Homo sapiens: one gene and its partner. The protein of the gene in region 1 purifies or fractionates together with the protein of each later gene. This does not show direct contact. Each region holds a gene or a part of one and is shown on either strand. Other genes may lie near its edges.

The links. The genes of interacting proteins can lie anywhere in the genome.
Region 2: the proteins of CARS2 (region 1) and OXA1L fractionate together in Homo sapiens (co-fractionation; one large-scale study listed by BioGRID). This does not show direct contact.

The regions. Positions count from the first base shown.
Region 1 is NC_000013.11:110,664,203-110,669,270, reverse strand, and holds part of CARS2 (probable cysteine--tRNA ligase, mitochondrial), read left to right. Parts: intron 1-1,797; coding exon 1,798-1,931; intron 1,932-2,342; coding exon of another isoform or gene 2,343-2,500; exon of another isoform or gene 2,501-3,743; intron 3,744-5,068. UniProt on the Homo sapiens protein: Mitochondrial cysteine-specific aminoacyl-tRNA synthetase that catalyzes the ATP-dependent ligation of cysteine to tRNA(Cys). In addition to its role as an aminoacyl-tRNA synthetase, has also cysteine persulfide synthase activity.
Region 2 is NC_000014.9:22,769,147-22,774,569, reverse strand, and holds the end of OXA1L (mitochondrial inner membrane protein OXA1L), read right to left. Parts: intron 4,780-5,423; coding exon 4,636-4,779; intron 4,378-4,635; coding exon 4,292-4,377; intron 4,110-4,291; coding exon 3,945-4,109; intron 3,766-3,944; coding exon 3,661-3,765; intron 3,553-3,660; coding exon 3,390-3,552; intron 3,303-3,389; coding exon 3,222-3,302; intron 3,137-3,221; coding exon 3,012-3,136; 3' UTR 1,528-3,011; downstream 1-1,527. Other genes in the region: SLC7A7 (Y+L amino acid transporter 1), read left to right, coding at 67-216, 454-637, 854-960.

The sequences.
Region 1 (5,068 bases):
GTCGCCCCATTCCACCAGGAGGGAAGGCCTTGTCCCCCACGACCTGCCTATCTAAATTTTGGTGGATCTTCTTCAAGACCCAGAAAGAGATTCCCTTTTCTGCTAAGCCCCCACCACTTGCACTGTGGTTATGCGGCTCATCTGGAAACGCTTCCGTCATTCCTCAGACCTCAAACCCTGTTGTTAGTAGGAAGCATGGGCCTGACTTTTGATGAAAAAAAAGTAAAAATGTCCAGTCACCAGTCACACTTTACTTCTATGTGTTTATCAATACTTAATAGCAGACTATGGCATATAAACTGGGTTGTAGATTCATTTTTTAGATTCAAATAATTTCTCTAAAGCAGGTAGAAAACATTTAGTGAGTTTCAAATGTAATGTTATGTGAAATTCTTATTTTTGTTGAAAGATTAAATAATGAAGAGACCATTATTGTTGTTCCTTCTGAGCCTTCTCTGATTTTAAAATAGGTGTAACGTAGAGATCAGGAGCGAAACTAACATAGTGAAGGTTGTGGCCCCATAGTTCAGCTTGTGAAACTTTCACGTCGTTGTGTTGGCTTCAGATCTTCGGAAGGGAGAATTGCCCATCCAAATACAAATGAGGCCCCTCCCATCCCCTCCCCACTCCTGGTCCCACAGTCTCCTTCACAGCATTTGAACTGCAGGGAATGTTAGAGTTACCCTAAGACGACCCGTCACTAAGATGTAAAAATCTTTTTTTTTTTTTGAGACGGAGTCTCGCTCTGTCACCCAGGCTGGAGTGCAGTGGCGCGATCTCGGCTCACTGCAAGCTCCGCCTCCCGGGTTCATGCCATTCTCTTGCCTCAGCCTCCCAAGCAGCTGGGACTACAGGCACCCGCCACCACGCCCGGCTGATTTTTTGTATTTTAGTGGAGACGGGGTTTCACCATGTTAGCCAGGATGGTCTCGATCTCCTGACCTTGTGATCCGCCTGCCTCAGCCTCCCAAAGTGCTGTGTTTACAGGCGTGAGCCACCGCGCCCGGCTAAGATGTAAAAGTCTTAGAACGTCACACTACAGCGTGTGTTTCTGTGATGCCTGTTTCCCCAGGCTCGAGACCTCCGTGTGCAGTGCTTCCCCGAGCACAGGGAACCAGACCAGTGGGAGCAGGAAGGACCTCTGCGAGGTGTTGGCACCTTAGAAATTTCTCTATCTATCATTTTAAGAAAATCCACCGGCCTGCTGCGTCGCCATGCTTCTGCAGCTGGTCCAGGGACAGAGCTTCGAGTGGGCTGGCCCAGCCTCATTTCCCCCATCAACCCCATTAATTTTTTTGTATGGGTTTGCAGAAACGCGGTTTTTATGGAGGCATGGCACAGCACTGTAGGAGAAATGGCAACCTGTGTTGCTTTGAACTCTCTTACCTTGTTATTCGTAGGTGACTGTTAGTTACACTTGCAAAAGCCAAATGAAACACTGTCATGATTTTATAGTTCCATCTCTTGTTAAAATTGGAAAACCACTAAACTCTACCTATTGAAAGTAAGTAAAGGTAATTTTTTGAGTTGAAAAAGAAAGAAAGAAAAAGAGAAAAAAAGAACCTGGAGCAAAAAGAATTAAGTGCCTTTACTAGGATGAAAAGTCATGAATTACGGGCTTGTGATGACAGGATTTCAGTTTTCATTTGAATCAGTTAAATTATCATGCAAATTGATGCAAAACTGAGATCCATTTATTCATTGAATTAAAAAGGCTGGAAGGAATAAATAGACGAGGTTAGAAGAAAATATGTTGCTTGATTGAATGAATTCACTACTTTGCACTGTGTCTTGCAGTATGGTATTTGGAAGTCAACTGGATATCCATTCAGGTGGGATAGATTTAGCTTTTCCACATCATGAAAACGAAATTGCACAGTGCGAAGTCTTTCATCAGTGCGAGCAGTGGGGAAATTATTTTCTGCATTCTGGTAAGTAATAACTTCAGATTAATTTGTTCTGTTTCAATTCTAGCAGTTCTGTCTTTGTCGGCGGAACAGCTACATTTGGAAATACATAGTAGATCAGCTAATAGGTCAAGAAATGGATTTGCCTCTTAAATTATTTTTGAGTTTCAATCATTTGAACATGAGCTTCCTTGGATTGCAGCAATGATTATACCTTTTTGGAACTGACTAGAATATGGAAAATGTTTGGCAATGCTGTTCTATATAAGGTTTCTTTCAAGTAAAACTATTAAGAAGGAACTTGAAGTAGTACAATGTAACGATAATTATGAACATCCTTTCTGAAGCTATAATGTTGTCACTAGACATCTCTGCCATCTTCTAATAACATTGCCCTTTCTTCCACTGTTCAAACACCTAACTGATGAACCCCAGCTGTCTGCTCTCAGAAGTGGATGCAACACCATGAGTTAAGCAACACCTCGAACCCAGCAGTTTTGGAATTCACTTGGATGCACTGGAAGAGTCGTATTTCCAAGTTTACAGGGTCACGATTAACTAGTCTTATTACCTTTTGGGGATGGACAGCTAAGGTATTTGAGATGAAGAAAGATAAAGAGTGTTTGGTAGTGATAGGATTTGGAGATGCAAACTTCGACATCTAAAATACAGAAAATTAACAAATACTATCTTTTGAAGTCCTTGAATTGGGAAATTAGGATGTCACAGTAAAGTGACATTAAGTGCAGAAGTGCTCTGGTTTTCTGGTCCGCAGCAGAGTTCACTTGGGTTTCTTCGTGAAAGTACATGAGGCTGATTGCCCCGAAGTCACTTCCTGCAGCATGTCCTTCACCCCGGGCTTACCCTGTTGAGTCGGGGAACCCAGCAGGCGGCTCTGCCCCTACCATTACCTACTATGTCTGCCTCTCACAGTGCCCCAGTTTTTGTCTAAAAATGAAGCAGAAACAAAGCTGGCTGCGTGGCTGTTTGAGGACTTAGGAGCTGTTGTCCAGCACCCCATACCATTTCCCTGGGGAGGGCTCAGCACTAGCTGAAATCCACTTTATTCCGGTGTCGGTGGAGTTTCTAATCAGAACAAACGCCTGCCGCCCTCACTTCCGTTTCAGCTGGCGCTCACATGGGAAGGGGGTGCACGCTGCCCAGTGGTGGAATATTTAAGGCATCGCCCCTCAGGGAGCCGAGCACTGATTTCCACAGCCGGGGGCCTGCACTCCACTTTTGACCATGGGGAAGGAGGTCTCTCTTCCGTGGCCCAAGGACTTCTGAATTGTGTTCTTGGAGAGGAAGCGTGCTGGGAGCCCAGATAGTGGGGCTGAGACACTGTGTCTCAGGCACAGAGGTAGTCGTGTCCCTTGTCCCAGATGAAGAAAGATAAAGAGTGTTTGGTAGTGATAGATTTGGAGATGCAAACTTTGACATCTGAAATACAGGAAATTAACAAATACTAGTTTTTGAAACCCTTGAATTGGGAAATTAAGATGTCACAGTAAGGTGACATTAAATGCAGAAGTGCTCCGGTTTTCTGGTCCGCAGCAGGGTTCACTTGGGTTTCTTCATGAAAGTAAATAGATGAGGCTGATTGCCCCGAAGTCACTTCCTCGTTGACTTCGTTCAGGGCTCAGTTCAGCGCTCCCTGAACTGTCTGAGGAGCTGGAGTTGCTCCCTCCGCAGGCACGTTTCTGTCTGCAGGTTTATCCTGTTCAGTAGGTCAGGGTTTGTTACTGACAACCATGACCTGCTGTGAGCCCTTCTGCGAGTGTGGAGCTGGGGGGCAAGAAGGGCAGCCTTAGCTGTGCCAACGCTTCGTCCTGTCAGGTAATGAGGAGGGGCCGGGTCTAGAAACGGAGGTCGTGTTCACCTTCCGATGTGGGAATGGGAAAGCATTTGCTGTTGTTGTTGAAACAATTTCGCTCCGTCCCCCAGCCTGGGAGTGCAGTGGCACTATCTGAGCTCACCGCAACCTCTGCCTCCTGGGTTCAAGCAATTCTCCTGCCTCAGCTGTTCTAGTAGCTGCGACTACAGGTGCATACCACCATACCCAGCTAATTTTTGTATTTTTAGTAGAAGCAGGGTTTCACCATGTTGGCCAGGCTGGGCTCAAACCCCTGACCTCAAGTGATCTGCCACCTCTGCCTCCCAAAGTGCTGGGATTATAGGCGTGAGCCACTGCACGTGGTGGGAAAGTTTTGTGGCTATTTTTCAGTGATTTTTTACTACCTGTTAAGATACCAGCGATCTTTTTCATACTAGTTTGGCCCCAAACAAAACATCAGTGTCTCCTGACGCAGGAGAAGTGACACCTGTTCTCCTGTACCCAGTGGATGGAAGAGCTAAGTGGGCAGACACTATCCCAGCCTGTTAGGGCTGCTATAGCCAAACTGAAAGCGGGCGTGTTATGAACAACAGCAATGAATTCCTCACAGTTCTGCTGGCTGGGAGTCCTGCGTCAGCGCACTGGCAGACTCGGTGTCTCGGGAGGGCCTGCTTCCCATTTGTAGACGGCCGTCAGCTCTCGAGGGGCCTCTGTTATGAGAGCACTGATTCCATTCACACTGGCTCTGCCCCTGTGACCTCATCACCTCCCACAGGCCCTGCCTTCAGTTACCGTCACCTGAGGGCTGAGGATTTTGACAGGAATTTGGGAGGACATAAACATTCAGGCCTTAGCAAATGTGTTTTATTTTCCAACTATCATCAATTTTAAAAAATCAGAATCGTGCTTGGTGTAATCACATTATATAGAATTACATGTTCAAAGTTATATATGTTTTTTGGAAATCACATTCTAATTGGTTGGTTGGTTGGTGTATTTATTTATTTATTTTTGAGGCAGAGTCTCGCTCTGTGGCCCAGGCTGGAGTGCAGTGACATGAACATAGCTCACTCTAGGCCCAACCTCCTGGGCTCAAGCGATCCTCCCACCTCAGTCTCCTGAGTTGTTGGGATGTTGGGACTGCAGGTGTGCCCCACCACGCCCAGCTAATTTTTAATTTTTTTTGTAGAGACCGGGTGTTGCCATGTTGCCCAGACTGGTCTCCAAACTCCTGGGCTCAAGCGGTCCTTCCACCTTAGCCTCCCAAAGGGCTGGTATTACGGGTGTGAGCCACTGCGTCCGGCCTGGAGGACTCCTGTTTGAAGTT
Region 2 (5,423 bases), on another chromosome or scaffold:
AGGGAGTGAAAAGCCTTTGGATTAACAAAGGCCCTGAGAAGAGCTGACTTAGGCTCACGCTTACAGGGTATCATGGCATTGATCTACTTGTGCGTGGAAGACATCTTCCAGCTCATTAACTACTACAGCTTCAGCTACTGGTTCTTTGTGGGGCTTTCTATTGTGGGTCAGCTTTATCTGCGCTGGAAGGAGCCTGATCGACCTCGTCCCCTCAAGGTAAGGCAACTCCATCCTACCTCTGCTCCACCTGAAACAGCTGGAGTTGTTGCTACAAGGGACTATGACAAAGCACTTTATTTAGAAACCTTTGCCTGGGACTTGGTCGTTAGTAATGTGTTGAAATTAAAGGTATGGAAAGAAGGCTCAGTGCGCTAATCCTTATGGGAGGTGGGGTTATTTTAGCTGTTAAGAATCCTGAGTTGTCCACTCCAGTTATGTTTCCTGTGCCCTTAGCTCAGCGTTTTCTTCCCGATTGTCTTCTGCCTCTGCACCATCTTCCTGGTGGCTGTTCCACTTTACAGTGATACTATCAACTCCCTCATCGGCATTGCCATTGCCCTCTCAGGCCTGCCCTTTTACTTCCTCATCATCAGAGTGCCAGAACATAAGCGACCGCTTTACCTCCGAAGGATCGTGGGTAAGCCGTGCATCCTTAAGTCCGCTCAGCTATTGCAGAGCTTGGTTTTTGCCTTTTTCTGTAAATCCAGCCTCCAAAGACATCTTTGCCTTAGCCCCTTCTTATGAACCCTTCGGCTTAGTGGAATCACTCCCCTCACACTGAGTTCCATTCAGTGACACTTGAACTCAGCCCAGCTGACCTCTTCTCAATTCCAACTCAAAGTTCTCTTTGTAGGGTCTGCCACAAGGTACCTCCAGGTCCTGTGTATGTCAGTTGCTGCAGAAATGGATTTGGAAGATGGAGGAGAGATGCCCAAGCAACGGGATCCCAAATCTAACTAAACACCATCTGGAATCCTGATGTGGAAAGCAGGGGTTTCTGGTCTACTGGCTAGAGCTAAGGAAGTTGAAAAGGAAAGCTCACTTCTTTGGAGGCACCTGTCCAGAAGCCTGGCCTAGGCAGCTTCAACCTTTGAACTTACTTTTTGAAATGAAAAGTAATTTATTTGTTTTGCTACATACTGTTCCAGACTTTTAAAGGGGACAATGAAGGTGACTGTGGGGAGGAGCATGTCAGGTTTGGGCTTGGTTGTTTTAGAAGCACCTGGGTGTGCCTACCTACTCCTCTTTTCTTTTAAAAGGGCCCACAATGCTCCAATTTCCTGTCTCCTTTAGAGAGACATGAAACTATCACAGGTGCTGGATGACAATAAAAGTTTATGTTCCTAAAGTCTGAGTGGCTTCATTTTATATAGTATCTATCTCTAGGACAGCTCCCATTAGCCTAGAAACACAAAGACTAAAATCAATCTTATGCTTGAAAGTATATCCATCTTTTCTCTCTCAAGCTAGCTGCTGAAGGCTGATAAACCAGGCTCTACACAAAGGCAGACAACAGAACACTTAAACTGCTCTAGTCAAATGTTGGATTGTTACATAAAAATGACATGAACTTCCTTTTTGAGACAGGATCTTGCTCTGTAGCCAAGGCTGGAGTATAGCAGCATGATCTTGGATCACTGCAGCCTCAACCTCCTGGGCTTAAGCTATCCTCCCACCTCAGCCTCCCAGGTAGCTGGGACTATGGACAAGCACCACCATGCTCAGCTAACTTTTTAGCAGAGACAAGGTCTCGCCATGTTGCCCAGGCTGGTCTCAAATTCCTGGACTCAAGTGATCTACCCACCTCAGCCTCCCAAAGTGCTGAGATTATAGGTGTGAGCCACTTTGCCCAGCCTGGAACTTTCATTCTTAATTATCACTAAGAATTTGCACACATCTACTTCTTGAAATTTTTAAAGTAATCTTGGGATCAAGAAGTGCGGTTACTATATTTAGATACAATCTCAACATTCAACTTATCAGCCACACCTCTAGACTGCAATCCAAATGTGCATAGAACAACACATGCATGGGTTGGAAGTTTAAACTGTTTTTTTTTTTTTTTTTTTTTTTTTTTTTTTGAGAAGGAGTCTCACTCTCTTGCCCAGGCTGGAGTGCAGTGGCGCAATCTCGGCTCACTGCAAGCTCTGCCTCCTGGGTTCACGCCATTCTCCTGCCTCAGCCTCCCAAGTAGCTGGGAATACAGGCACCCGCCGCCATGCCCGGCTAATTTTTTTTTTTTTTTTTTTAGTAGAGACGGGGTTTCACCATGTTGGCCAGGATGGTCTCGATCTGCTGACTTCGTGATCCGCCCGCCTTGGCCTCCCAAAAGTGCTGGGATTACTGGCGTGAGCCACTGCGCCTGGGTGGAAGTTTAAACCCTTAATGCCAGGTTAAAACATTATATTTTCCAAGGCCATGGGCCAGCAAAAGCAATCATGACTCACTCTATTCTTCAGTTTTCTTTTTTTTTTGAGACAGTCTCCCTCTATTGCCCAGGCTGGAGTGCGGTGGTGCGATCTTGGCTCACTGCAACCTCCGCCTCTCGGATTCAAGCAATTCTCCTGCCTCAGCCTCCCGAGTAGCTGGGACTACAGGTGTGCACCACCACGTGTGGCTATTTTTGTAAAACAGCAGAGATGGCGTTTCCCCATGTTGGCCAGGCTGGTCTCAAACTCCTGATCTCAGGTGATCCACCCACCTCGGCCTCCCAAAATGCTGGGTATTCTTCAGTTTTCTGAAGTGCACACTGATTTCCCTGTTCAATAAGTATCAGGAAGCAGCATGTAGTACAGAGGTTTACTAACTCTGTGAATGGGAAGATCACTTGGCTACCCAGTGCTCTCTTATAAACATAAGTACAAGAGTGTTTCATGAAATCCGTTTTTAAAATGAACATCTCTGTGTGCCACAGTTCCTAGGACTGGGGCAAGGACACAGTGTCAAGTCTTGTTTTGAGGATGAGTCTCTGAAGAGACAGAATTCCTGCCAGAATGCGCACAGAACATAAGTCAGCCAAGTGTGTCGTGCCAGGGATACTTTGACTTTGGTTTGCTGCTGCTGCTAGGGATATTGGGAGGGTTATCCTTTCCAGGTTGTAGGAGAGGGTTGTGGGTAAAGGTCTGTCGTAAAGGACCTGAGGGGAGAAGAGAAAACAAATTTCAACGAAGAACAGAAAGGAAGAAACAAAAGACAGAATTTGGCCTGAAAGGACTATTTACCCCTGGCTGCTAGCTCCAACTGATTCCGCATGCGTTGTTCACGCTCTCGCAGCTGACGCGTCATTTCAGCATTTTTCCAGCCTGTGTAAAGAGAAGCAAGAGAGTCAGTTGCATTCCTATTTTTAGACCCCTTTCCCTAGTCCTTTTTCACAGAGGATGAGCCCTTACCTTTTTTGAAGCTCTCTAGGAAGCCTTCCCGTGGAGGTAATTTGTCCAGGTCATGTACAACACGCTGGGGGATTTTAAGTACAGTGCGTACTGCTGGAATCCGGAGACAGGATACTTGGACCAGGGAAAACAAATTGGAGGAGAGCCAGTACATAAACACTGCCTGGGTGAGAACACAGAGAAGGGACTCAGAAGCTGTATCCCTGGTCAGCTTGCTAGGTGGCTAGGCTAGGCAGAAGGCCTTGGAGCCAGCCCATAAGGCATTACATACCGTGGGGAAATGCATGGTTATGGGCAAGGTTATCAGGGGCATCATTCTGATGACATTTCTCATCCACTGAAGGTCAGAACTTTGCACACCTGTCTCAGCACCTAGCTGCCAAAAGAAGTGGGGTGGAAAAGTCGGGAAAGCTGTCAGTTTCAGTGAATCTGTCTCTAATCTCTTACCCATCAACTCTTTCTCCAGCAAGTGAAGGATGACCATTCTGTACAACTACTTTACCCTCCAACCCCAGTTCACTTTGCAGGCCTGGCACTTGGCCAATCTGGGCTTACCTCAAGAACAGCCCACATTGTAGCAGTGACTGCCAGTGGTAATATGTAGATGGGATCGGATACCGTGAGATCCTGGAACCACCAGAGGCCACCTGTCTGCAGGCTGGGCACAGGAAGGTTGGCCATCTCTCTCAAAGCAATGAAGAAGGAGATGAAGATTGGGGCCTATTACACAAGATAAACAGTGTCAGCATGCTTTACCAGAGAGAACATTTTCATCACCCCACTACTGAAAGCCATGTATAATCCACCACCACCTGTTTTTTGGGGGACCTGGGACACATGAAACACAGAGAGGAAATTTCATGGGTACTGGATGAAATAAGGAAGGAAATGTTTTTGCTCACCTGAGTCACAGGGAGAATGAGAGGTTTATAGAGTTTAATACCATGTTTTTTCTGGTAAAGTGCCATCTCCGAGGAAGCCTTGTAATCTGTGAGGTGAGGGGAAATTAATGGTTGGGGTAACAGTTACATCAGTGGAGGTGAACATCCTCATTATCTACCTGGCCTGTGAAATTTCTAACCAACCCTGGCCACTCCTTGGGAGCATTAGGTCTAAGAAACAGATAAACCTTTAGAACTTTCCCGACTGTGGCAACTTCTGATTTACATTGTTCCTTTCCCCCAGCAGAATGTAAGGAAAAGTGCAAATGTGGACTTCTCCCACGCTCATTCTGCAACTGACTCACACTCAATATGGTCTCCTGCTAACTTGGCCTCTCTGATTCGACTGGAAAACTTCTGGATCTCTGGCAAGTGATTGTGGATCCTGGCTGCCTCTCGCTGGCCCGTCACGATGAGAGGAAAAATCAGGCAGCGGGCAAAGACTGTACCTGGAAAATACAAACTAGGATTGGAGTGAAATTAAAGCAGTTCTGCAGCTAGAAGGTTGAAGGCTTTTAGGTCCTTACTGAAAGGGTCTTATTCTTGCCTTGTCCATTCTATGACTCATGCCTAAGAGGCCCAGAAATAAGGTCAGGGGAATGAATTAGTTGCTTTAAGGCTCAGTTCTCTAATTTGGCATCACAAAAGTATGGCATTAACTTCTCTAAGCAGATGATTAGGAATCCTGTTTGTTTCCTCAAACAAAAAGCTGACAGGAGTGGATTTAGCAATTATGTTACTGGCAGTTCGAATGAGGTGATATGAGTAAAAGCCAGACGGCTGAGGGAGTAAATGGAAAGAAGTAGGCTAATTGGATGCAGAGCAGTCTTTTAAGTAACAGCTATCAAAAGAATGAAACCCAGTCATCTGTGACAACGTGGATGGAACTGGAGATCACTATGTTAAGTGAAATAAGGCAAGCACAGAAAGACGAACATCGCCATGTTCTCACTTATTTGTGAGATCTAAAAATCAAAACAAATGAAATCATGGGCAGAGAGTAGAAGGAAGGTACCAGAGGCTGGGAAGGGTAGTCAGGGTTGGGAATAGTTAATGGGTAAAAAAAAGTTAGAATAAGATCTACTATTGATTG